2 separate regions of the Homo sapiens genome follow, and region 1 is linked to region 2. The links come from fine-mapping of genetic effects on gene expression. A gene starts in region 2. The other region holds a variant in brackets. All regions are shown on one strand. Distances are from middle to middle. Region 1 overlaps TP73 (tumor protein p73). Region 2 holds the start of TP73 (tumor protein p73).

Evidence for each region. PIP is the estimated chance that this variant, and not a neighbour inherited with it, causes the effect.
Region 1: its variant is fine-mapped to the expression of TP73 in whole blood (TOPMed, PIP above 0.99). The same link has a PIP of 0.9 or more in blood mononuclear cells.

The regions. Positions count from the first base shown.
Region 1 is chr1:3,671,475-3,683,078 of GRCh38, forward strand. It overlaps TP73 (tumor protein p73), which reads left to right. Exons shown (of 14, transcript NM_005427.4): 2 at 10,859-10,956; 3 at 11,586-11,604. The coding sequence starts at 10,892. Among named protein-coding and RNA genes, the nearest start is that of TP73-AS3, 8.3 kb to the left of the region's middle. RefSeq lists enhancers at 2,235-2,454, 9,215-9,950 and a silencer at 8,758-8,925. The variant G/A (reference allele first, on the strand shown) is at 7,898.
Region 2 is chr1:3,645,486-3,657,306 of GRCh38, forward strand. TP73 (tumor protein p73) reads left to right here and starts at 7,031. Exons shown (of 14, transcript NM_005427.4): 1 at 7,031-7,156. It overlaps WRAP73 (WD repeat containing, antisense to TP73), which reads right to left and starts at 4,618. Exons shown (of 12, transcript NM_017818.4): 1 at 4,446-4,618; 2 at 1,923-2,075; 3 at 1,181-1,297. The coding sequence starts at 4,514. RefSeq lists enhancers at 4,839-5,682, 11,484-11,563, 11,644-11,743 and a silencer at 6,642-7,591.

The DNA.
Region 1 (11,604 bases), 26 kb after region 2:
GGCTGACCCAGCCATCGTCGGGAGCCCCCTTCGTGACGGGGGCAAAGGCTGGATCGTTGTCTGCCCTGCAGGAGCCGGGGCCTCCAGAGGACGGGCTGCCTGGCGGGAAGGTGGAGCTCACCGGAGCCCAGCCTAAGCCAGCTGTGGTGCTTCTGAGATGTGCGGCCCTGGGCAGGCTGCTCGCCCTCTCGGGGCCTCTGGGAACACCTGGGGACTTCCCGCTGGGTTCCTCTGAGGATTGAATGAGCTTGAAAATATGGAGGATTTGGCACAGGGAATGCTGGGCAGCAATATCAGAAAGGCAACCCTGAGAGCCAGCGGACAGCCACTCTGAGGAACAGCAGTGGCTGCCTCTGGAAGGAGTGAGGGGTGGGTGGACCCCCGTGATCGCTGCACGGGGGAGGTCACGGGGCTGAGCGGCCACCACTGTGCAGGGGAGGTCACAGGGCTGAGCGGCTGACTCCAGAACAGGAAGGGAACACGCCAGGAGGGAGGATTGCTCACTGAGTCAGGGCGGGACTCAGAGGGACGCATGACAAGTTCAGGGAGTTGACAGCTGTCTGGAAGGGCACGTCTGCTCAGACCGCAGGGTAGGGAGTGGTCAGCAGGGAGACATGTCCACTGGTGCAGCGGGCGTGTCCCAGACCCCTTAGAGAAAAGCCCAGAGCCAGGGGTGAGGGGTATGTGTAGGGTGGGGACATCTCAGAGTGGAGCATCCCCACCAAGGGTGTCCAGAGGAGGGTGGCCAGGTGGGGACAGCAGCTTGAGAAGGGTCATTCTCTCTTGGTTGGAGGAGTGGAAGTGCTTCTCTGGGGAAAGAAAGAAGATTCTGGAGGACAGCACAGGCACTTCCAACATGGGCGCTGGCCGCACAAAGGCTAGTGACACCCGGTGTGATCCCTTGGGGTAGAAAGGGGGTGTGAGAGGAGGATCGGAGGGGGCAGAGGACAGGGATGTGTCTGTGCAGAACGAGGCTGTGGCAGCTCCAGCGAAGGCGGCTGCGGCCCCATCAGTCACCTGCCCTGCTGAGGGCAGCGCTGTACTCATCACCTGTGAACACAGGTATCGACTCAGACACCCACTCTGGCCATAAGCTCCGCTCTGTCCCAGCCCTGGACCCCTCACCCCCTATCCTTGGCAGTCGGTCCTCTGGGTCTTCTTCCTGTGCCCACTGTGCTGGTCTGAACCTCCCTTAGTGACAGATCTGCTCCTACCACCCCCGCCAGGGTCGCCCTTCCTCTAACAGGTGGGCTCCTGGCAGGAAACATCACCAAGCTCAGCGCCCCAGTTCCCTGACAGGGCCCCACTTCCCTCCTGCCGCCAACCTCGTCCCCCCAAGGGCCATGTCCCTGCCCACCCCTTCCACCCCTTTCTTAGAGGAAGCTCAGCCCATCAGGCCGCTCATGCTTCTGACCCCACCTCCAAACCCTCCTGACCCGCTTACCCCCAGGAGCACCGCCCACTCCAAGGCGCAAGCAAGCTGGGGCTGGGGTGCAGACTTCTCTTCCACCACCCACCCTCCTCATACCCAGCCTCTGAGGGCCTCACAGACATACATGATTTGCCTCCAGTGGGCCAGGGTTATCTGTTTACCGCGTTGCATGCCCCCGGGCATGGAGCTGGCACCGGCTGCCGCTGCAACTGGGCACTACCCGTTTCGAGGACGCCTCATTCCCTGAGAGACTGAGGATAGGCTGGTGCTCTGCAAAAGGGTGCGGAGACCACTGTAAAAGTGGGGTGAGACACGCGTGCTGACCATGAAATGGAGAGGCACTCGAAGGAGCCAGGGACCCGGCAGCCAGCAGACCCCACCTTTCCGCCCCCGTGTGTGCAGTTCTGTCGCTCAGCCTGGTGCCTTTGGGACCCGGGCCTCATTGGTTCTTCCTCCACTGCCACCACCTGATACTAAATAACCGTCGGTCAATGGCAACTCGATACGGTTTATGGGGCATCCACGGTGTGCCCAGATAGAGGAGTGCTTTCGCTTTTGATATGCGTAGAGTTACTTCATTCCACCTAGCGCTTCTAGGAGGCACTACAATTATCTCCATTTTACAGACAAGGAAACAGAGGCTCAGAATGGGCAAGACATCTATCTGAGGTCACACAGCTAGAGCGCGGCAGAGGTGGGCTGCGTGGGCAGAGCAGGAGAGGGAACTGGAGTGTGTGCCCGGCAGTGCTGGGCTTCAGGGCACGAAGCGGTGGGGCAGGAATCATGTGTCTTGGTATGACCCAAACACATATATGACAGCAAGAAGGCCTGGGCAGGCAGCAGAGGACAAGGCGGGCCTCTTGGATGTCTGGATGTGGATTGGGCCTCAATGTACCGGTGAAGATAGATGGACAGGCAGGGGATTTCCAGAGAGGGGCTTCCCAGGCAGGGTGCGGGGTGTGGCTGTGCGGTGGGAACACGGACTGGGGAGGGGATTGCAGCCGGGCCCGTGCCTCCCTTGCTCAGCTCCAGGTCAGGCCAGGGTAGAGCCAGGCTGCTGGGTTCGACCTCCACCCTGACCAGCTGTGTGCCCATGGAGGGCTGGTCTTCCCTCTCTGTGCATGTCTCCTGGTTGGTAACAGGTGTGTGGCCTCACTGGGCCGTCGTGGGGTGGCTGGAATCCCCGGGAATTAGCCATGCTTTGGTGTTTCTACATTTCACTTGGCTGAGTGTGAACTGACCCAGGAAGCTGGTTGGGGGCACCCCCACCCACGGGGGGTCGGGCATTTTGGTTTGGTCATGGCCTCAAAGCTTCTGGGGTGAGGCTCAGGGATTCCCCCAGACTGTCCTGGGCATCTGCCTCCCCTCCCCTCCCGCTTCCCGTGGGCCACGGCCCAGGAGAGAGAGGGCAGCTTGCTCAGGCACCTCCAGCTGTCCGCATATTTCACACGGTGCACGCTACCCCACCGTGGGAGGCTGTGTTTGTCTTTCATCCCCATGCTGGGCTTCCCCAAACTAGGGGAGTGGGGCAGCAGGCGTGCCATCTGTGGCGGTGAGGGGGGCTCTCAGCCGCATCCTCCTCACCAGGCCCTGCGGACAGGCCTTCGTCCCTGCCCCTGACCTGCTGACGAAGCCGTCCTGGCAACCCTGTCTGAAGGACCTGGCCCCATCGTACCCACAGAGGGAGGCCACATGGTCCTTAGCCTCTGTCGGGAGGGGCAGGCAATGCTGGCAGAGGGCCTTGCCCCTGAGAGGGAGGCCCTCCTGGCCCTCACTCCGGGGGACCCCTGTCCTTGGCCCCAGCCTGCCAAGCGAGAGCGGCCCCTCTTCTTGCGGTGGCTGGAGGGGAGAGTGAGGCCCCTTGGCACAGAGGGCCCCAGGAGGCTGGGCTCTGATGACGCCCTGCAGGAATTCCGCTGGGCTGCTGCCTGGGAGAGCCGCTGTCTCACACAGGGCCAGCCTGCCTGGCTTCATTCTGGTGCGCTGACCGCCCGACCCCTCTGCCCAGGCGGGGGCTCTTCTGGGTTCTGGGTCCTGGGACCTGCCTGAGTCCCTGGGAAAAGGGCACAAGGGGATTGAGACGGTCTCCTCCCACAATGGCCCAGGTGTCTCCTCCCACAATGGCCCAGGTGTCTCCTCCCACAATGGCCCAGGTGTCTCCTCCCACAATGGCCCAGGTGTCTCCTCCCACAATGGCCCAGGTGTCTCCTCCCACAATGGCCCAGGTGTCTCCTCCCACAATGGCCCAGGTGTCTCCTCCCACAATGGCCCAGGTGTCTCCTCCCACAATGGCCCAGGTGTCTCCTCCCACAATGGCCCAGGTGTCTCCTCCCACAATGGCCCAGGTGTCTCCTCCCACAATGGCCCAGGTGTCTCCTCCCACAATGGCCCAGGTGTCTCCTCCCACAATGGCCCAGGTGTCTCCTCCCACAATGGCCCCAGGTTTCTTTGCCACTTCAGATTGGAATCGTTGATCTGCTGAAATAACAGGTAAAATCATTGGTGGTTTGGGAACCACCGGAATCAGAAGTGCATTGAGATGTTTGCTTTAGGGGTGGCCCGGGGCGGGTGGAGTTCCTGGGGGCTTTTCCCTCCTCCCTGAATGGAGGAGGACACCCTGCACCCCTCCTGTGATCCCCCTTAAGAGCCAGTGTCCGGGATGGCTGGGCCAGACGGGGCAGAGGGGCCTGTGTCTCCTGCCCAGGCTGAGTGCGGACGGCTCGGTCTCAGAGCTCCACCGAGGGGTGGGTAGGTAACAGCAGCCCTGCGGCCAGGGCCCCTGCAGGTGGGAGTGGGTGTCCCCATGGGGAGTGCCTCTTCCAGAGTGGGCTCAGTCGGGGTGGAGTGTCCTGGCTTATCAAAGGTGGTTGTGGAGCCCTGTCTGCCCCAGGCCTGGGCAGAGGTGGAAGGGGTTGGGGAACTGACGAGGCCTTACCTGTGGGCCCATGGCCAAGGAAATGTCTGGTCTCCCACCTCCTGTCAGGTGGTGAGGGGAGAGGATGGGGCGTCAGCCGGAGACGGGGTTCCTAGAGGAGGCTGGGTCCTGGCCTGGCCTGGAGAGATAGGGATGAGATGGGAGGGCAGGAAGGGGGTGGTAGACAAAGGCTGAACACAGAGAGCACATAGCCAGGCATGTGGGGACTGGGGACAGGGGACAAGGAGGGCACCCATGGGGACAAGAGATAGGGAGAGGACAGAGGGACAGGAGACGGGGAGGGACAGAGGATGGGGGACAAGGAGGGGACAGGAGGACGGGGACAGGGAGGGGACACAGAAACAGGAGCTAGGACGGGGACAGAGGATGGGAGAAGGAGAGGTCAAAGGGACAGGGAACAGGGAGGGGACCCATGGGGATAGGGCAGGGATCTATGGGGACAAGGGACAGGGAGGGGACAGAGAAACAGGAGATGGGGAGGGGACAGAGGGATGCAGACAGGGAGGGGATAGAAGATGGGGGGCTAGGGGACAAAGGGAAAGGGGACAGGGAAGGAACCTATGGGGGACAGGGAGACAGGGGGACAGGGAGAGGACAGAGGAACAGGGGACAGGGAGGGGATGCTTGGGGACAGGGAGGGAATGCTTGGGACAGGGCAGGGGGACAGGGGGCTGTGGCTTTCGTGGGAAGCTATGGAAGACGAGGCCAGAGGGGTTGGGCAGGGTGAGATGAGAGAGGCTGAGAGCCCCTCACCGGCTGCGGACTCCTCCCCACAGGGCAGAGGGGAGCATTCGGGTGCGGCCAGGCCATCAGAGGACCTGGGCTTGGCTGGAGTCCCAGCTCCTCAGCCCTCAGTAGCTTTGGGCCAGCCACTGGGCCTCCTGGCCTCCACTTGCTCATCTCTGAACTGGGGCAGGGTTGGCGTGTGAGCCTGAGGCCCTGCAAAGTGCCTGGCCAGCCTCAGCTCGGAGCCATGGCACAGCACCCCCTCTCCGCCACGGCCCCGACAGCTGGGCGTGCGTTCTGCTGTGGGCAGCTGCCCTGAGCAACGTAGGGTGCTAAGCAGCATCCCTGTCTTGCACACTAGATTCCACAGCACCCTCTGACCCCGTGGAAAATGTCCCCACATGGGAATATCCTCTGGGGGTGGAACTGCCCCTGGTGAGAACCCCTAGGCTGAGACCTCAGAAGGCCCTGAGTCAAACCGAGAAGTCATCAGAGAGCCTTGTTTTCAGCTCCAGGGAGCTTGGGCAGGCTGGTTTTCTGGGCCACACAGTCCCCTCCCCAGCCCACCTGTGCTCCGTGGGTCCCGGGGAAGCTGTGGGGGCCTAATTGCTGGTGTGAGTTCCTTTCCTGTTCTGAGTCACACGTGTGTGGGGGCTCTCCCTGTGGTGCAGCTGGTACAGCGGCCCCTGGAGTTGAGGATCCAAGCAGGCTGAGGTCTGGGTTTGCCGGAGGGCCCTCGGTGGCTGGTCTTTGTCCTGCTCCCACTGCTGTGGGCACTGTAGGACTTGGAACGCTGGTCACCTTTCCAGCCTGGCAAAGGGAGGGGACTTGTCTGAGGCCTCATGGAAGTTGGGGCAGGGTCGAGGTGCCCTGCTTCCTGGGTGTGCCAGCAGCCTACAGCCTGGCTACAGCGTAACCAGGAACACCCAGCACAACTGTCCTTTGCAACTCTGTGCCCTGACTTGATGGTGCCAGGGCTGGGGGGGTGCCGGCCAGCAGCTCCCCAATGACCACCCCCAAATGCTGTGGCCACACAAAGCCTTCCACTGCAAGACCTGTGGTAATACACACTGGACGCCCCTGTTACAACTGAGAACTCATTTATTTCATTTCCTTCCTTCCCTTTTTTTTTTTTTTTTTTTTAGAGTTGTGGTCTAGCTCTGTTGCCCAGACTGGAGTGCAGTGGTGCAATCATGGCTCACTGCAGCCTCGAGCCCCTGGGCTCAAGTGATTCTCCCACCTCAGCACCCTGCGTGGTTTGGACTGCAGGCACATGCCATCACGCCCTCATGCCCAGCTAATATTTTTTTAAGTTTTTGGAGAGCTGAGGTCTCCCTGTGTTGCCCAGGCTGGTCTCAAGCCCTTGGGCTCAAGTAATCCTCCCTCCTTGGCCTCCTAAAGTGTTGGGATTACAGTTATGAACCACTGCACCCAGCCCATCCCTCCTAGACTAAATCTTCTTAGAAAAACCTACACTTCCAATAATGTATTTGCATTTTATGATGTTGATAAAACTTCCTAAAGATGTCTTATGAAATTGGTCTCCTTTCCCCATTGATACACATGATTTTTAAAACTATTGGCAACGTTTCAAAAGCAATTTCTGTTTTGTCCCAGAACCGTGATCCCCTTGTGAACGAATTTTCAAATTAAAAGGCAAATGGTTGGGAAAATTGGATTTAATTGAAAGGCCATTTTATTAGAATTGACTTATTTTTCTCGCCACTGGGATCCTTGCCTGAAAGGCGGCTGTGGGCAGAGGGCACATACTCCCCCTGCCCCAGCGCAGCGTCCCTGCACCCCCAACAGAGCTTCCTGTTCCTCATGCCCAGTACTCCCAGATGCCTGCGGAGCCAGTCATCAGCTCAGGTGTGTGAGGCCGGTTGGGGGAGCCCCTGCCTGGCGCCTGTGCCTGTGAGCAGTGTTCCTGTGGGGCCCTGGGACCAATGCTACCAGCGTTGGCGTTTTCCCAGGAAGTTGGGAATCAGGCATCTCGTGGCTTCCGGTTCAAGTTCCTCCGTGTGCTTTAAGTCTGGGCAGGTTTCCGGGTCCTGGTTTTGGCTAATGAGGAACCCGATTCCCATGGGGGAGGCCGGTGGCTGCAGCAGGGCCCCGAGCAGTGGCAAGGCTGGCCCTCATGACAGTGTCCTCCTCAGGGGGCCTGTCCCAGGCTCTTCATGACTCCCCTGGAGGCTTGTTAAAGGGGCAGATTCCTGGGCCCTGCCCCAGCCCCACTGTGGGGAGGGGTGTCCTGGAAGATGCATCTGCCCAGGGCTTCCGGCTGGTCCACACGCCTGCACCTGGAGGCCCACTGCCCACATCTCAGGCAAACAGGCCTGGGGATGTTTGGGGACCCAACTCCTGGCGTGGAGGAAGCCCCTTTCCCACCCCACATGCTCCTGGTGGTGGCCTGTCCTGTGAGCCTGGAGGGCCGGACGGGTGGGATCGGGGACCCACGACCACGCTCGCTGGCCTCTGTCCTGTGCCCAGGCAGGGATGAGAGGCCAAGCTGGTGTCCTGCAGTGCACAGTGGGTGCCGGTCAGGGGATGTGGAAGCTGGGTCTCCGGCAGGCAGAGGCGCGCTGACAAGAAGGGTCGCTGTTCCTCATTCAGGGTTCAGTGGGAAGAGAGGGTGTCGCTTCAGGGGGAGTTCACAGGATGCCGACTTGAAAATACAGCCAACGCCCATGTCCCAGGCATAAGATCACAAATCATGTTTTGCCGACCAGTTCCTGTGAGCCCTGAGCCCTGCGCGGAGGGATGCCCCGTGCACACCTGTTCACGGAACCCCTGGACCTCCAGTA[G/A]GGGTGCGGCGGGATGCCGTCGGCTCCCACGCTGTCTGTCTCCCTGTCCCTCTCTCTTTCCCTCTGTTTCTCTGTCTGTCTCTGTCTGTCTCTGTCTCCCTGTCTCTCTCCATCTCTCTCTGTCTCTCTCCCTGTCTCTCTGTCTCTGTCTCTCTCCATCTCTCTGTCTCTCTTTGTCCTTGTCTCTCCCTGTCTCTGTCTCTCTCACTCTCTGTCTCTCTTTGTCCTTGTCTCTCTGTTTTGTCTCTCTTTGTCCCTGTCTCTCTGTCTCTGTCTCTCTCTCTCTTTGTCCTTGTATCTCTCTGTCTCTCTTTGTCCCTGTCTCTCTCTGCCTTTGTCTCTCTCCGTCTCTCTTTGTCCCTGTCTCTCTCTGCCTTTGTCTCTCTCCGTCTCTCTTTGTCCTTGTCTCTCTGTTTTGTCTCTCTTTGTCCCTGTCTCTCTGTCTCTGTCTCTGTCTCTCTTTGTCCTTGTATCTCTCTGTCTCTCTTTGTCCCTGTCTCTCTCTGCCTTTGTCTCTCTCCGTCTCTCTGTCTCTCTTCCTGTCTCTCTCTATCTCTTTCCCTGTCTCTTTCTGTCTCTCTTTGTCTCTCTCTTTGTCCCTGTCTCTCTGTCTCTCTTCCTGTCTTTCTCTTTCTTTGTCCTTGTCTCTCTCTCTCTGTCTCTCTCTTCCTGTCTCTATCCCTGTCTCTATGTCTCTGTCTCTCTTTGTCCTTGTTTCTCTCTGTCTCTCTGTCTCTGTCTCTCTCTGTCTTTGTCCCACCTTAGCCTTGGGAGGGGACAGCTCACAGGCTGACAGATGAGGTCATGTGTCCTGAGCATGAGGTTTTCAGGTCTCACCCACGCTGTAGCATGTCAGAGCTTCGTTCCTTTTCATGGCCGCGTAATGTTCCATTGCTTGCTGGCACCACATCTCCTGTGCCCGGCCCTCTGCTGATGGGCGTCTGGGCTATGTGCACCGTTCAGCTACCAGGAATGGTGCTGCTGTGAAGGGAGCTGGGATTTTGTCATCCACCTGCTGTGGATGGCAAGTCCATTTCCATCTCTGGACTCAGGTGGCCCATCTACAAAATGAAGGGGATGCGACCCAGAGGCCTCTGGCGGCAAAACCTTCCCAGGCTTGTCCTCTTGGATCTAAGGGAATTTCTTTCCTCCGAGTCCAGCCCCTCCAGTGCTCCTGCCCTTCAGGAAACATGCCTGGGACCCCTCACTTGTGCCCACCCAGCCTTGGCCCACATACCTGCACCAAGAGGCTACCCTACTCATACTGCTCAGCCCAAAGGGACCCACCGTGGGGTATGGGCAAGGGCGGGTTCTGCTCTCCCCCGGGGCCCTGTGCCAGCCTCAGCTGGACCTGCGGTTCTGCTTCCTGTCACACTCTCCCATTTTAAATTAACGGAATGGTGCGGTCCCCATGCACACCCTCAGCTCCACTGGGGTTTTAGCCCAGCCCAGGATCGGAGGCCTGCAAGGGCACACCCACCTGGCCACGTGATGGTGAAGTGGGGTGGGGCAGGGCAACCAAATTAACTTCTAATTCTAAGAGCCCCTGGAGCATTCATCACCAGCACTTACAGCCGTGTGACCTCACACAAGTCACTTAACCCCTCTGAGCCTTGGGGCTCCTGAAAAGTGGATGGAGCGGTCACGCCCACCTGGGAGAGGTGGCTTGGGCCAGCACCCTCTAAGCTGCTTGTCCCAGGCCATCATGGCTCACGGACCGCCCCTCAGCCTGGCCTGTGCCACTTCTCCAGGGCCCGGCACGTGGCAGCCACAGGCTTCTATCAGCTCCCGCCTGCCTGGGGAAGGACAAAAACGACAGGTTCCAGGCCATGGCCTGCACCCCCGCTGGCCGTGGGCAGGTCCAGGCCTGCCTGCCTGAGCATTGCAGGGCGGTGGCCAAGCCTGTCCCATAGCACCTCACCGAGGACCTGGGAGGCTGGCCCAGGGGAGAGGTCACCTCAGCCGGGGCTGGGGGCTGTGGGCAGGGTGGGCTCGGGTTTCCCTGTCCCCTCCCCCAGCTGTGCTCTGCCTGGACACTGCCACCTCCTCATGGGTGTCCAGGGCCACTGGGAGCTGGGCCCAGGGGTTCTCAGGGGAGCAATGGTGGAGACAAAGACCAGCGGACGGGCGCTGGGGTCAGAGCTCTCCAATCCCTGGGTGTCTCCTTCTCAAGGCGTGACCACCCAGGCAGTGGCCGGCTGCAGGACAGGGCAGCTTCAAGTTCCCAGCCTTGCCAGGCTTCCCTGTGGCCCTGGGGTGCAGGAAGGAGCCCCAGCTCAGAAGGCGAGGGGGCGTCTGTGTCCTGCAGCAGTGGGCACAGCTAGGCTCTAGCCGGGGGCTTGGCTGCAGCCTCCAGCGCAGCCCTCACACACGCTGTTCCCAAGATGGGGTGACCGGGACCGGAGCCACCTCCAGGTCCCGGGCATCAGGGAGACCCCAAACCTGGCTGCATCCCCCAGGCCAAACCCAGACACAGGGGATCGTAACAGACCACAGGCCTCACACACTTGTTCCGGCCCAAGCATCCCCCAGGCCAAACCTAGACACAGTGGATCATAACAGACCACAGGCCTCACACGCTTGTCCCGGCCCAAGCATCTCAAAGAGTCTGCTCTCCTGAAGGCCCTCAAGGCAGCCCCAGGAGCGGGTGTTGCTGTCACCCCCTCTTCCAAGGCGACGGCTCTGAGAAGCTCCTGCCTGCCCAGGGCACCCCCACGGATGGGTCTGATCCAGGCCCGCCACCTCCAAGGCAGAGCTGCCCACCTGGCCTTCGGTTTCCAGCCGCGGGGAACAGGGTGGACGAAATGACAGTGGAGAGGGCACAGGGAGGGCAAGGCGGGGGCACCTGCTCCAGGGATGCCCCAGGCAGGCCCACTTGCCTGCCGCCCCCACCGAGGCTGTCACAGGAGGACAGAGCACGAGTTCCCAGGGTGCTCAGGTGTCATTCCTTCCTTCCTGCAGAGCGAGCTGCCCTCGGAGGCCGGCGTGGGGAAGATGGCCCAGTCCACCGCCACCTCCCCTGATGGGGGCACCACGTTTGAGCACCTCTGGAGCTCTCTGTGAGTGCGCTTGGCTGGCCAGAGCTGGGGGCCCCCCTGGGAGGCACTCTGGGCTAGCCTCAGCCACCTTCGCTGGGCTAACTGGGCCAGAGCAGGAGGGGTGGCCCCGGGAGGACTCTGGGCTAGCCCCAGCCACCCTCACTGAGACTTTGGGCTAAACTTGGCAACCCTCACTGGGATTCTGGGCTAGCCTCGACCACCCTTGCTGCACTAACTGGACCAGAGCAGGAGAGGTGGCTCCACACTAGTCTTGGGCTAGCCTTAGCCACCCTCATCAGCTTGGGGACAGGGCGGGTCGGAGGGGCAGGGAAGAGGGACTGCTGCCCTAGGCCTTCCCTGGGGATGCAGGACCAAAATTCAGACTCTTTTCTCTGGCCAGCTCTGGAGAGGGCCCATGGCCAGCAGAGGCCCAGAATAACAGAGCCCATGACTGGCTCTGCCTCTCTGGCACTCACAGCAGCCCTGGAATGGCAGGTGGAGGACAGAGATGGGATGAGAGGGAATGGGAAGGGCAGGAGACGTAGGCCTCACCAGGAGTCTCAGGCTAGCCTTGAGCTCTGGGCCTGGGAGGTATTGGGGTGACACCCAAACTGGGGACTGACGCTTCTATTTTCCTCTCCCTGCCCCAGGGAACCAGACAGCACCTAC
Region 2 (11,821 bases):
TGGTGTGCGCGGCGCAGCGGGATGGGCGGGTTGCCCCGTGGTGTGCGCGGCGCAGCGGGATGGGCGGGTTACCGAGGTGCAGCCAGCAGCCCAGACAGCTATGAGCACTCAGTGGACTTGGGCCCAAACACTGGGATCCAACTCCATCAGAAAAGCACATTATTAAAGGAATTCGTCCATTTTTCTGTATCTTAAAAAGACACTGCGGACACCAAAGACCTGGTATCTAAACACTTGACATATGCCTAATTTTAACTTAAAATGCAGTCTCCTATCCCAGATCCCTCTGATTTATTCTCGGATGTCAACATTCCCCTCCGCGCTGAGCTCAGCACGGAGGCTGTTGTGCGGTACCTACAGCAGGTGAATGGGCGGCTGCCGACCGCCCCGAGCCACGCCCCCAGGCCAGGCTCCTGAAGGAAAGGTGCGAGCCGGCTCATATCACAGCGCATTTTCTATCGTTGAATTAAAGGGAGTGCCGAAATCCTAAAAAATCTAAATTAAGATTTTTAAAATGTTTTTTCTTCAAAACTGGACAAAAGATCAGACAATAATACTTAGTGGCTTATAATGCTCTGACCTAAAATATACACACCACTATATACGCTCCCCGGCTCCCTCCAACCCCGCCAATCTACCAGCCACTCGGGAGCCACCTCAGTCATCAGACCCAGGGCAGCAGACAGTGCCTGTGTTCACGACACCCTTATCTGACTCAGTAGCAGCCCAAAGCACGGGCGGTGGGGCTCGCAATCTGGATACGCCAAAGAGAAGCCACAAAGTGCTTCCTTTAAATGACGAGCTGAAAGTTCTTGACGCAACAAGGAAAGAAAAAATCCTATGCTGAGGTTGTTGCTCAGATCTTCAGTAAGACCAAATCTTCTATCCATGCAATTATAAACAGTATATTGTTATCCTTGTTCTATACTATGATTGTTGCTAATCTCTTACTGTATCTAATTTATAAATTAAATGTATCACAGGTATGCTGTATAGGAAAAAACACAGGAAATACAGGGTTTGGTACAATCTGAATCCCCTGGTGGTCTTAGAATGCATCCCCTGAGGATAAGGGGAGACTAGCATACTCCAAACACACCCCCTCTCGCACTCCCCAGCTGTTTCGAGAGCAGAGGACAGGATCACATGGCCAGTAAGGTGTCTTGGGGCTGACACTTACATGGAATTCCGTGGTGTTGAGAATGTGGCGCCCGTCCGGGCTCCAGCACGAGGCCACCAGCCCGGCTGAGCCCTCGTCTATTTTGCAGTGCCATTCGGGCTGCTCTAAAGACCAGACCTGGATTGAGAGAAGAAAGAAACACACAAGTGCAAACTCATCAGCACCGAGAGACAGCGAGGACAGCTCGCTTAAACGCAGCGGAGACCCGACCGCACAGGGTGTCTTCAAACTCATCAGCAGTCTATAGCGAGGCCTCGCCGAGAGACAACTCCCTTAAAACCAGCAGAGACCCGATCACACAGGGTGTCTTTTAGAACCTTTCATGATGAAGGGCTGGTGCTGGATTCCAGTGTAAAAGTAAGCCACGCTTCTTGGTGATTTCATTTCGTTGTTGTTTTAAAACTGTTTATTCACATTGTCATTCCTAAGACCTCATTTAGTTAAGCTTTGGACACAGAAGAAAACACGACTTCTTAGGACTTCCTGAAACACACCACATCCGCGTGGCTAGATTGCTGTCAACACCTCCGTTTCTCAACTATATTGCTTAGAAATTAAGACTACGTTGGAGTTTCCTTAGTTTAAATGTTCTTAAACTTTAGAGAACGTTATAATTTCAAAAGAAAACTGGCTTTGAGCTGCACGGACTTTTTTTTCAAACTAGAAAGGCACAGAACAAAACCCCTCCTTCCCAGGGGCCCTCAGAAGGTGTCCAGATTCTAAGCGACACGGCAGCACACACCTGCACCAGCCCTCGCTTGTACATGGCGCACAGGATGAAGAGCGAGTCTGCCGACCACTCGATGTGCTGGATCTGGTCTAGGCACGTGTACAGCTGAAGGATCTGAAGGGTGTTCACATCCCGGACCACTAACCGGTACTGGACACAGGAAGCCTAAAAAATATGAGAAAGCAAGCACCTGACATTCTCCACTCCAAAAGAGGGGGGCCTTCGGAATGCTACTGCCCTGGCCTTCAGTGACTGTGGCCTTCTCTCCTGCCAGAGGTTTCATGTCTAGATCACCAGTGACATCCCCAGCCCCTAAAGATCAGTTCAGTTCATACAAGGGTAATGTTGAAATATACAAGCCAGGTTTTAATATTGCTATACTCTATTGTAAAGTATAAAAGTATGTTTTAACTCGCTACTTAAAGCTTTAAGACATTTTTAAGTCCCTTCTTATCTGTATGTTAAAAACTAAACTTAAATGGGAAGTAGCATTGGGAGAAAGCTCTTCTGTGAACTAATAACCAAAATCCTCTGCTAGTTTTATAAACACTTTTGGACAATTTCCTCAAATTTATAAAGGGTAAGAATTGAGGCTTCACAGATGACAACGAAAATGGCAAGGAATGCATCAATCTTCTTATGCAGTGCCGAACTCAGAGCCAAAACAACAGAAGATCAAAAGACAGGCTTTCACTTCTGCACACATAAAGATGCTTCGCAAATGCTCATTTATCTCCATTAACCTATTCCTAACACGAAACGGGAAATGTTTAAGTGTTAGTACTATTTTCTTAAAGATAGTTTCTTCTTGTCCATATTTGTTCATTATGTCCCTATCCAAGCAAACAATTTCAAGTAAAAATAACGCCTGAGTACTCACCTGCTGAATGTATATTTTACTACAGTTTCAAGATCAAGAACTGATGTTTAAATATTAACTGCTTCGTTAGTTTTACTTATCAAGGTCAAAGTAGTTTGTGTTTTATGAACCGATATCAAAAAAGAAAGCCACGTTAGTTTTCCGTGGGAGAAAAGAGAGACAGGCGGGTGACGGCAGATTGGAACAAGGAGCTACCACAGCACTTACTTTCTCACACTGTAGCTTTGAAAACTGTGATCAGTTACAGTGAATTCCTTATGAAATGGAATATTTTTACCAACACCTTGAGGAACCACATAAACTCTACTGCAAGATATGAAAACTAGAAACATGGACCTGCTCTCCCCAGTCCTCAGGGCTTTCAAGAAGATGATTCCAGTAACAGATCATTACCAAGTGTTTCAGGGTATTTTGACCAGAGTGTACAAGCTGGAAAAAAACACCCAAGTTAAGCAAGCAGATGTAATCTTTCTCCTTATAATTCACTGAAATTTTCATAAATGGTAAAAACAAAAAACAAACCTCTCATTTAATTGAGGAGGGGGGCACATTGAAAATATACCAAGGCTGAGATGCCATTTAAACTAATGAGGTTTTCTGTTTTGTAGCTGATGCTATTTTATGTGATTTGGAATAAAACCTCCCTGAAGAGGTAAAAAACGTAATTTGAGAGTTAAACTCTCAAAAGCTAGACAGAGCACAGGAATGTCAGGAGTGGCAAAACCTGAAAAAGCATCATGATACATCAGTCAGTTAGTACAGGTGGTGGATAAGGAAAACGAAGCCCACTTTTTACGAGGCATGTTTCTTCTTAGTGGCTTTCCAATGCCAATTGTCCCCCTCTTCTGAGGACATACATACTAGGCATCCGGGTTATCCCTCTCTTCTGAGGATATACACTACTAGGCATCCAGGTACATACACTATATGTTTTGAAGCTTAAAGTTATAGCTCTGTGATTTAAGCACCCTTCTGCCACCCATGGAACGAAGACCTCAAATCCCAGCCATGAGGACAACTACTTCCTTACCTGGGGATAGAATACTAGTATTTAAATCATTTATTCGGCATGTGGTAGAGGAGAAGAGAATTAGAGGAGAAGTAGAGATGACAAAGTAGCCACACCACTTACCAGTTTACAGGCAACAGAATCATCAATTTGCCTTTTGTGACAAAGTAACAACAAAGAGCCGACATCTCCTATACCCTCACCTGTGTGCAGTCGGCACTGCCGATACCCACCTTTCCAAGGGCACCTCCCCAGACCCCCCACCTGTCTACGGTATCTTCCTGGGTCCCGCACCTGCCCGGGCACCTGCCGGGGTCCTGCACCTGTCCGGCCCCCATATCTGCTTGGGGTACCTGCCTGGGCCCCGCACCTGCTTGGGGTACCTGCCTGGGCCCCGCACCTGCTTGGGGCACCTCCCCGGGCCCTCCACCTGTCTAGGGTATCTTCCTGGGTCCCGCACCTGTCTGGGGCACTTGCTCAGACACTGCACCTGCCCCGGGTACCTGCCCGGGCCCCGCACCTGTCCGGGCACCGCACCTGCAGGATCCCCAAGCTGCCTCCACCCACGCGGCCGCCCCCGGCCCTGCCCGCCGGGGACGCTGGCACCGAGGATGTCCTGCCCGTGGCCCAGGTCCCCGCCGCTCACCAGGTACTTGCCGTCCGGGGAGAACTTGCAGAGTAAGCTGGAGAGCTTGAATACCTCGGAGAAGTTCATGGCCGCCGCCTGCCGCGGGCGCCACCCTGCGCCCGAAAACCCGCGGGACCCCTGGGCGCGCAGCAGGCTGCAACAGCCGACGCCGGCCTCCGAGGCCGGAAGTCAGAAGGCGGAAGTGAACTGCAGCCTATCAGCGCCGCCGGCTTCCGCGCGGCATTGTGGGGCTTGTAGTTCTTGTGCCGCAGGGCTTTAAAGGAAACGCCCACGTTTCTTCCGACCAGGGATTTCCGACCCGAGAACCTTACCTCAAAGGCCGGGAGGCCTTTGAGCACCTCCAGCTAGGGCTGCTGATAAAAATGTAGAAAGCACAGTAAAATTTGAATTTCAGATTCACAACAAATCTAGTTATAAGTATGTTCCCAAATATTGCACGGGACATGCTAATACGGAAAAATTACTCGCTAGTCTGAAATTCAAATTTAATTGAGCGACCTGTGTGTCTGCGTGTGTGTACACATGCATATATATATATTTATATTTATATGTAAATGTATGTTTACATGTAAATATATGTTTACCTACAAATATATCTTTAATAAGTAATACGGTGTCTGTCGCACATATATTATATCGTGTATGTAATGTATAAGTATTTATTTCGTTTGCTTGGGGTTTTGTTTGCTTTTGCTGAGTCCGACCCCTCTACCTGCCGCCTGGCCCTTGCCTCACGCTCCAGTGCCACTGAGATCAAGGAGAGAACGAATTTGCCGCTGACTGGGCAGAGCGAGCGCGTGGATCGCGGCCACCGCCCGTTCATCACCCGCGCGCATCTGGGCTGGCACCGGGCGAAGAATCGTGCGGGTCTGGGACCTGGGGGCCCAGAGGGAGCGAGCTCCTGCGCGGGCGCTCGGTCCGCAGGTTTCGCAGGCTCAGGGGCGTGCCTCGTTCTCACCCCCACTCCGGACCCCGGTCCTCTTCCCTAGACAGCGGCCCCCTCCACCCCTGGCTCCCGCAGGCCGCTAGTAGTCCGCGCCAGGCCCCGCCGGCGCCTCTAGGGCCCCCCAGATCGCGCAGACCCTGACATCCCCGCCTGGCCCTGGGTTCTGGGAGCTGAGAGCCGGCCAGGGTCCTGCTCGTACCTCCGGGCGCCCAGCCTCGGGTCTGCTCCCCGCGGACGCCCCAACCTCCCCGGCCGAATGGATGGTGGTGCGCGCGCGTCCTACTCCGGCGGTGCCGGCCTTTTCTGTTGCCAAAACTAGACCCAAACCTCTGCATGGGATTCGTCTTTGGGTCCCCACCCCGTGCGCCCAGCAAACAGTGGGTGAGCCATGAAGATGTGCGAGTCAGCCGGACCCTCCCCGTCAGGCGCGGACCCGCTGCGGCCAGAGAACCCAGTCTGCGCCAGCCCGGCTCGCTCGCGAAGCCACGGGCTTCACTGACGCGACTTTCCAAGACGTGGGGGTCACCATGGGCAGAGGACATCGGTTCGGAGCCAGATCACGGGCCCCATAAGCATCAGACCATAAGCAGCGCCGCCACTGAGAGCCGCTCGGAACTCGCCCAGCATGTCGGGTCCCCTAGCCAGGGCCTGGTGTACGTGGTCGAGGGCCCTGGAAGCCCCGATGGCCTAGGAGGAGCAGGCGGGCGGGGCGGCGGGTGTCGCTGGCCGGTAGAGAGCTTCGGCCTGACCTAGCGCAGGTCTGGTGCGCGCAGAGAACAACTCCAAGCGCACCGACGCCCGCGAGCTCCTTCCAAACACCGAACGGGATCCAGAGCCCGAGCCCACAGGCGGCGGCCGGGGGAGGGAGCAGGGTGCTGGCCGCCGCCCGGGAGTGTTCGCGTCCTGGGTGACCCCTGGAAGGACGTGGGGCCCAAACTCCGGCTGGGGTTGGGAGAGCAGCCCCCAGAGGCTCTCCGCGGGATCCTCTGCCGGGCGGGACCGTGGCTCCACAGGAGAAGTGGGTGGCAAGCCCTGCTTGGCGGAAAGCAGCCGTTCCCCTCCTCCTGGGCCTGGGGCGGCGCCCCTCACCCCTGTTCCCCGCCCCTCACCCCTGTTCCCCGCCGGCCACATCCCCTGCCCCTTGGATTCCAAGCGCCCCGCGCGCCGAGGAGCCCAGCGCTAGTGGCGGCGGCCAGGAGAGACCCGGGTGTCAGGAAAGATGGGCCGTCTGGGGGACAGCAGGGAGTCCGGGGGAAACGCAGGCGTCGGGCACAGAGTCGGCACCGGCGTCCCCAGCTCTGCCGAAGATCGCGGTCGGGTCTGGCCCGCGGGAGGGGCCCTGGCGCCGGACCTGCTTCGGCCCTGCGTGGGCGGCCTCGCCGGGCTCTGCAGGAGCGACGCGCGCCAAAAGGCGGCGGGAAGGAGGCGGGGCAGAGCGCGCCCGGGACCCCGACTTGGACGCGGCCAGCTGGAGAGGCGGAGCGCCGGGAGGAGACCTTGGCCCCGCCGCGACTCGGTGGCCCGCGCTGCCTTCCCGCGCGCCGGGCTAAAAAGGCGCTAACGCCCGCGGCCGCCTACTCCCCGCGGCGCCTCCCCTCCCCGCGCCCATATAACCCGCCTAGGGGCCGGGCAGCCCGCCCTGCCTCCCCGCCCGCGCACCCGCCCGGAGGCTCGCGCGCCCGCGAAGGGGACGCAGCGAAACCGGGGCCCGCGCCAGGCCAGCCGGGACGGACGCCGATGCCCGGGGCTGCGACGGCTGCAGGTAGGAGGCCCAGGGCCGGGGGGCGGTTCGGCTCCGCGGGCGGGGGCTGGAGCGCAGCGCTGGGCAGGCACCTGGGCTCGCAGCTCCGAAGCTGGGAGGTGAGGGGAGAGCGATCGGGGACGAGCTGGGACAAGGCGACACAGGGGCTCCCTCGGAGTTGGATCGGCCCCTGGGACTTGGCGCTCGCGAGAGGCTGGAGCGGCCAGAGTCTAGCCTGCGAGGAGACGCGGGTCCTGCCCTCAGCGCCGGCCGCCTTTGGCGCCAAAGACAGCCCCGCAGGGGTTCCGGGAGGGCCCTCCTCCTGCTGTCCCCTCTCCACCCCGGGCTCCGAGGGCCGTTGGGAGGGTAACCCCGGGAAGAGGCCGGGGTGCGGGGCGCGGGTGCAGGTGGAAATCGCCAGCAAGCTCCTCCCCGCCCGCGCGCTCCCTCCGACCTGCAGGGCTGTGCCAATCCCGAGGCCTCAGCTTCCCTGAGGAGCCAGGGCCAGGCCCCCCTCTGGACAGGGAGAAGGATCTGGGCGGGGGCCTTGACCCATGGAGTTGGTTACTAAGCGGTTTCGATGGTTTCCCGAGGGACAGCTCCCTGTGGCTCTGAGTTTGTCTGTCGAGGGCTCCTGGCCTGTCTCCGGAGCGGTCCCAGGTAGAGAAAGCCCGTGAAGAAATGGCCCGGGCCGGCCTGGAGGGAGACACCTCACGCCCCCTTAGCTCCTGGGCCGCCTCCTCCTGCAGCCCCTGCCTTTCCCGGGGCTTGGACTTGGGGAGCGATGATTACCTTTGCTCAGCTTGTATTTTGGCCTGGACGCTAGGAGATAAGCCCATGTAGTATGCACACGTCTGCTACATAAACAGGGGACAGATAGACGATCTTCAACCAGCAAGGGTGCAGGGAAAAGCAATGCACCCCAAACTTCTGACCAGAGGTCATTTGCTTCCAAAGATGCTGCCATCTGTTTATTCACTGTCTGGACATTTGGAAATGGCTCAGGCTCATTAACACAATGCTTTGGTTTTTGTTGTTTTGTTTTTTGTTGCTGTCATTGCTGTTTATTTGTTCAGCCTTAGCTCTGGGGGAGGAGTAAACAAAGCGCGTGGCCTCTGGCACTTACTGAGCGCTGAGCCACCCCTCTTTGGATTTATTCGGGGAAAGATTAAAAAGCATTTCATTAAGAACAGGACACGGTGTTTGAAATGTTGCCATATATGAATGTATGCATTACGTATGTAGTTTTTAAAATAAGATAAAAAGTTGGCTGGGCACGGTAGCTCACGCCTGTCATCCCTCACAGCCTTTGGGAGGCCAAGGTGGGTGGATCACCTGAGGTCAGGAGTTCGAGACCAGCCTGGCCATCATGGTGAAACCCAGTCTCTACTTGAAATACAAAAATTAGCTGGGCATGGTGGCAGGCACCTGTACTCCCAGCTACTCGGGAGGCTGAGGCACAAGAATTGCTTGAACCTGGGATGGAGAGGTTGCAGCGAGCTGATATCATGCCACTGCACTCCAGCCTGGGCAACAGAGCAAGACTCTGTCTCAAAAAATAAGATGAAATAAGATAAAAGTTGGTGTCAGAGGCTGCAGTGTGGCAGCTGCCTATTGTCAATCAGAGGTAGCCTGGGGTGAACGGAAGGCGGACCTGAGCGGGGCTTGTCTATGCGCGGCGGCCACCAGAGAATGGCTCGGGATGTGAGCCCTGCCTTGCAGTCCTTCTCGTGAAAGCTACAGCGAACAGTAGCTGTCTCCAAATCCCGAAGGCCAGTCGCATGGAGAAGCTGGTCTGGCACAGTGGTTAATGGGGTAGTATGGAAGTCAGAATGCTGGGGTTCAAATCTCCTCTTCCCCATTTACTCCAGCAAGTCACTTAACCACTTGGAGCCTCAGGTTACCCATCTGCAGAGTCGGGTAATAGTAGTTCCTGCCTCAGAGGCTTGGAGAACAGTCAGTGAGGTGCCGTCCGAAGGGCTTGGGAGAGTGCCTGGCACCCACTCAGTGTCCTCACACATGATGGCTTCGGGTCCCAGGTGCTGTTCCAGAGCTGGGAGAGCCAGGAGCCCTGGGGAGAGACCCGGCTCCTTAGTATCTGGTAGGTATCTCCAGGGCAGGAGGGATGGCAGTGAGGCAGGCATCTGCCCAAGGCGTGGGTGGAAGCTGATGGCATCTGTCAGAAGTATGCACTGGGGCAAGGATGCCTGGTTTAGTATTTATTTATAGGGCATGCCCCACCCAGGTCCAAGAATGGATTGATAACACTGAGCACGTGTGAAAGGCACGGCTAAAGTGGAGAGAAGAGAAGAGGCTGAGGGCCGAGAGAGGAGCCGCACACCCACTCCAGAACCCGGACGAGGCCCTGCCCTTGCCCAGCGGCGGTATTAACCCTGAGATTCCGAGCACACCAAAGTGACATCGCGTACACGGTGAACCCTGTGTTTGCAAAAAGTCAGAAAAAGTCTTCAAAACATCCTTTAAGGCCAGGCGCCGTGGCCCACGCCTGTAATCTCAGCCCTTTGGGAGGCCGAGGTGGGTGGATCACTTGAGATCAGGAGTTCAAGACCAGCCTGGGCAAAATGGTGAAATCTTGTCCCCACCAAAAATACAAAAATTAGCCGGGGGTGGTGTCTGGTGCCTGTAGTCTCAGCTACTCAGGAGGCTGAGGCAGGAGAATCGCTTGAACTTGGGAGGCAGAGGTTGCAGTGAGCCGAGATCACCCCACTGCACTCCAGCCCGGGCAACAGAGCGAGACTCTGTCTCAAAAAAACACGCAAAAAATACTTTTGGTGTGTGTTTCATGTAACGAGCTGCCATTTTGCGGCTTGCCTTTGTTTTCCAGTGTGGGGAGGGCTAAGGCAACCTTTTAAGATATCTGTATGTTATTTCCTCGTGATTTTGCTTTAAAAGCAAAAAAGAAAAAAGCTGAGATGAGTTACTAAATGACAATAACGCCTACTTTTCTTTTGAATTCCCGTGTTATTTGTATCTGAATGTGGTGAAAGTTTTCTAAATGTAATGTTTTATCACCAGTAAGTAGGCTGAGTGATCACTTACTCCTACCAGTATTTAATACTTCCATGTTCTGCCCAGATTCCTTTAACAAATACACAAAACACACTTGTAGCTGGCAACATCCACTCGTGTATAATGAAAACACACAATGGCTTTCTTAGAAGTTTGCCTTCTTAAGTGGGTTACACAGGATGCCTCGAAAATCCTTCTCTGTGGGTCGTGCAGAAGGTATTTTATTCTAAAAATTCCCTCTACTCAGCCGGGCGCAGTGGCTCACGCCTGTAATCCCAGCATTTTGGGAGGCTGAGGCGGGTGGATCACGAGGTCAGGAGATCAAGACCATCCTGGCTAACACGGTGAAACCCCGTCTCTACTAAAAATACAAAAAATTAGTCGGGCGTGGTGCGGGCACCTGTAGTCCCAGCTACCCAGGAGGCTGAGGCAGGAGAATGGCGTGAACCCGGAAGGCGGAGCTTGCAGTGAGCTGAGATCACGCACTACACTCCAGCCTGGGCGACAGAGCGAGACTACGTCTCAAAAAAAAAAAAAAAAAATCCCTCTGCTCATTGGCATTTGAGTGTAAGACAGCTTATACCAAAGTGGGCTCAGACAGACATATGCACATGTTTACAGACTTTCTGCCTGCCCCCTGGCAGTCCACTCTGTGCTCAGTATTTCTTTGCAGGCTAAACACTCGCTCATCCAAAGTGCTTTCTTTTCCTGGACAAGTTGCACATCACAGACCCAAAGAAGAAAAAGATAATCCAGCCCAACTCTTGTTTTTTAATGTTTCCTGTAATAACTCACATTTAGCCCATGGTGGCTGTGAGCTGGTACTTGGCTAAAAAGTTTACATTTTTTTCCCTGTAATCCCCACAATAGCCCGTTGAAGTAGATACTATAATTATGCCCATTTACAGATGAGGAAACTGAGGCTTCAACTGGCTATTCTACTTGCACAGGGTCACACAGCTGCAAAGTACGGGAGTGGGGACTCCAGCTATGACCACGAAGCTGGGACTGGGGCTGCCAAACCATCCTTTGCCTGGGTCTGCCGTTGGCTCAGACACGGCCCCCAGACACCTAGGACCGTGGAACATTCAGGCCGGAAGGGCCCTTCCAGAACATCTAAGCCAGGGGTAGAGAGTCCAGGGTGCTGTGAGCCTGGATGGGGAAAAATGGCACCTTGTATTAACCTCAAAGCAAATTTCAGCATTTCCTCTAGTTTTGAATGTAGGCAGCAAACTACAGTCATAGCAGTACCTGTGACCTCACCAGTGGGAACCACTGATATTTTCATGGTGTCCGGTAATAGCTGCAGCATCTTAAAAAGTGGTTTGTGCTTGTCGCTCCGTTGCAATTATGGCGGTGATTAGATCTGCTCTCAGGCTTACGACTTAATGTATGAACAAAGAAGCGCACATATGATCACCTCCCAGTTTTGCTTTTTAAATATTAGGGTCACTTTGTAAGTTTTCTCAGGCTGCTGTTACAAATGACCACAAATTAAGTGGCTGGAAACAATAGAGAGTGTTGTCTCACGGTTGTGGAGGCAGGAATCTGAAGCCAGGTGTGGGCAGGGTCGGGTTCCCTCGGAGGCTCTGAGAGGGGGCTCGCCTCCTGTCTCCCTCCTAGGATCTGGGGGCTGCCGGCCATCCTGTGGTTCCC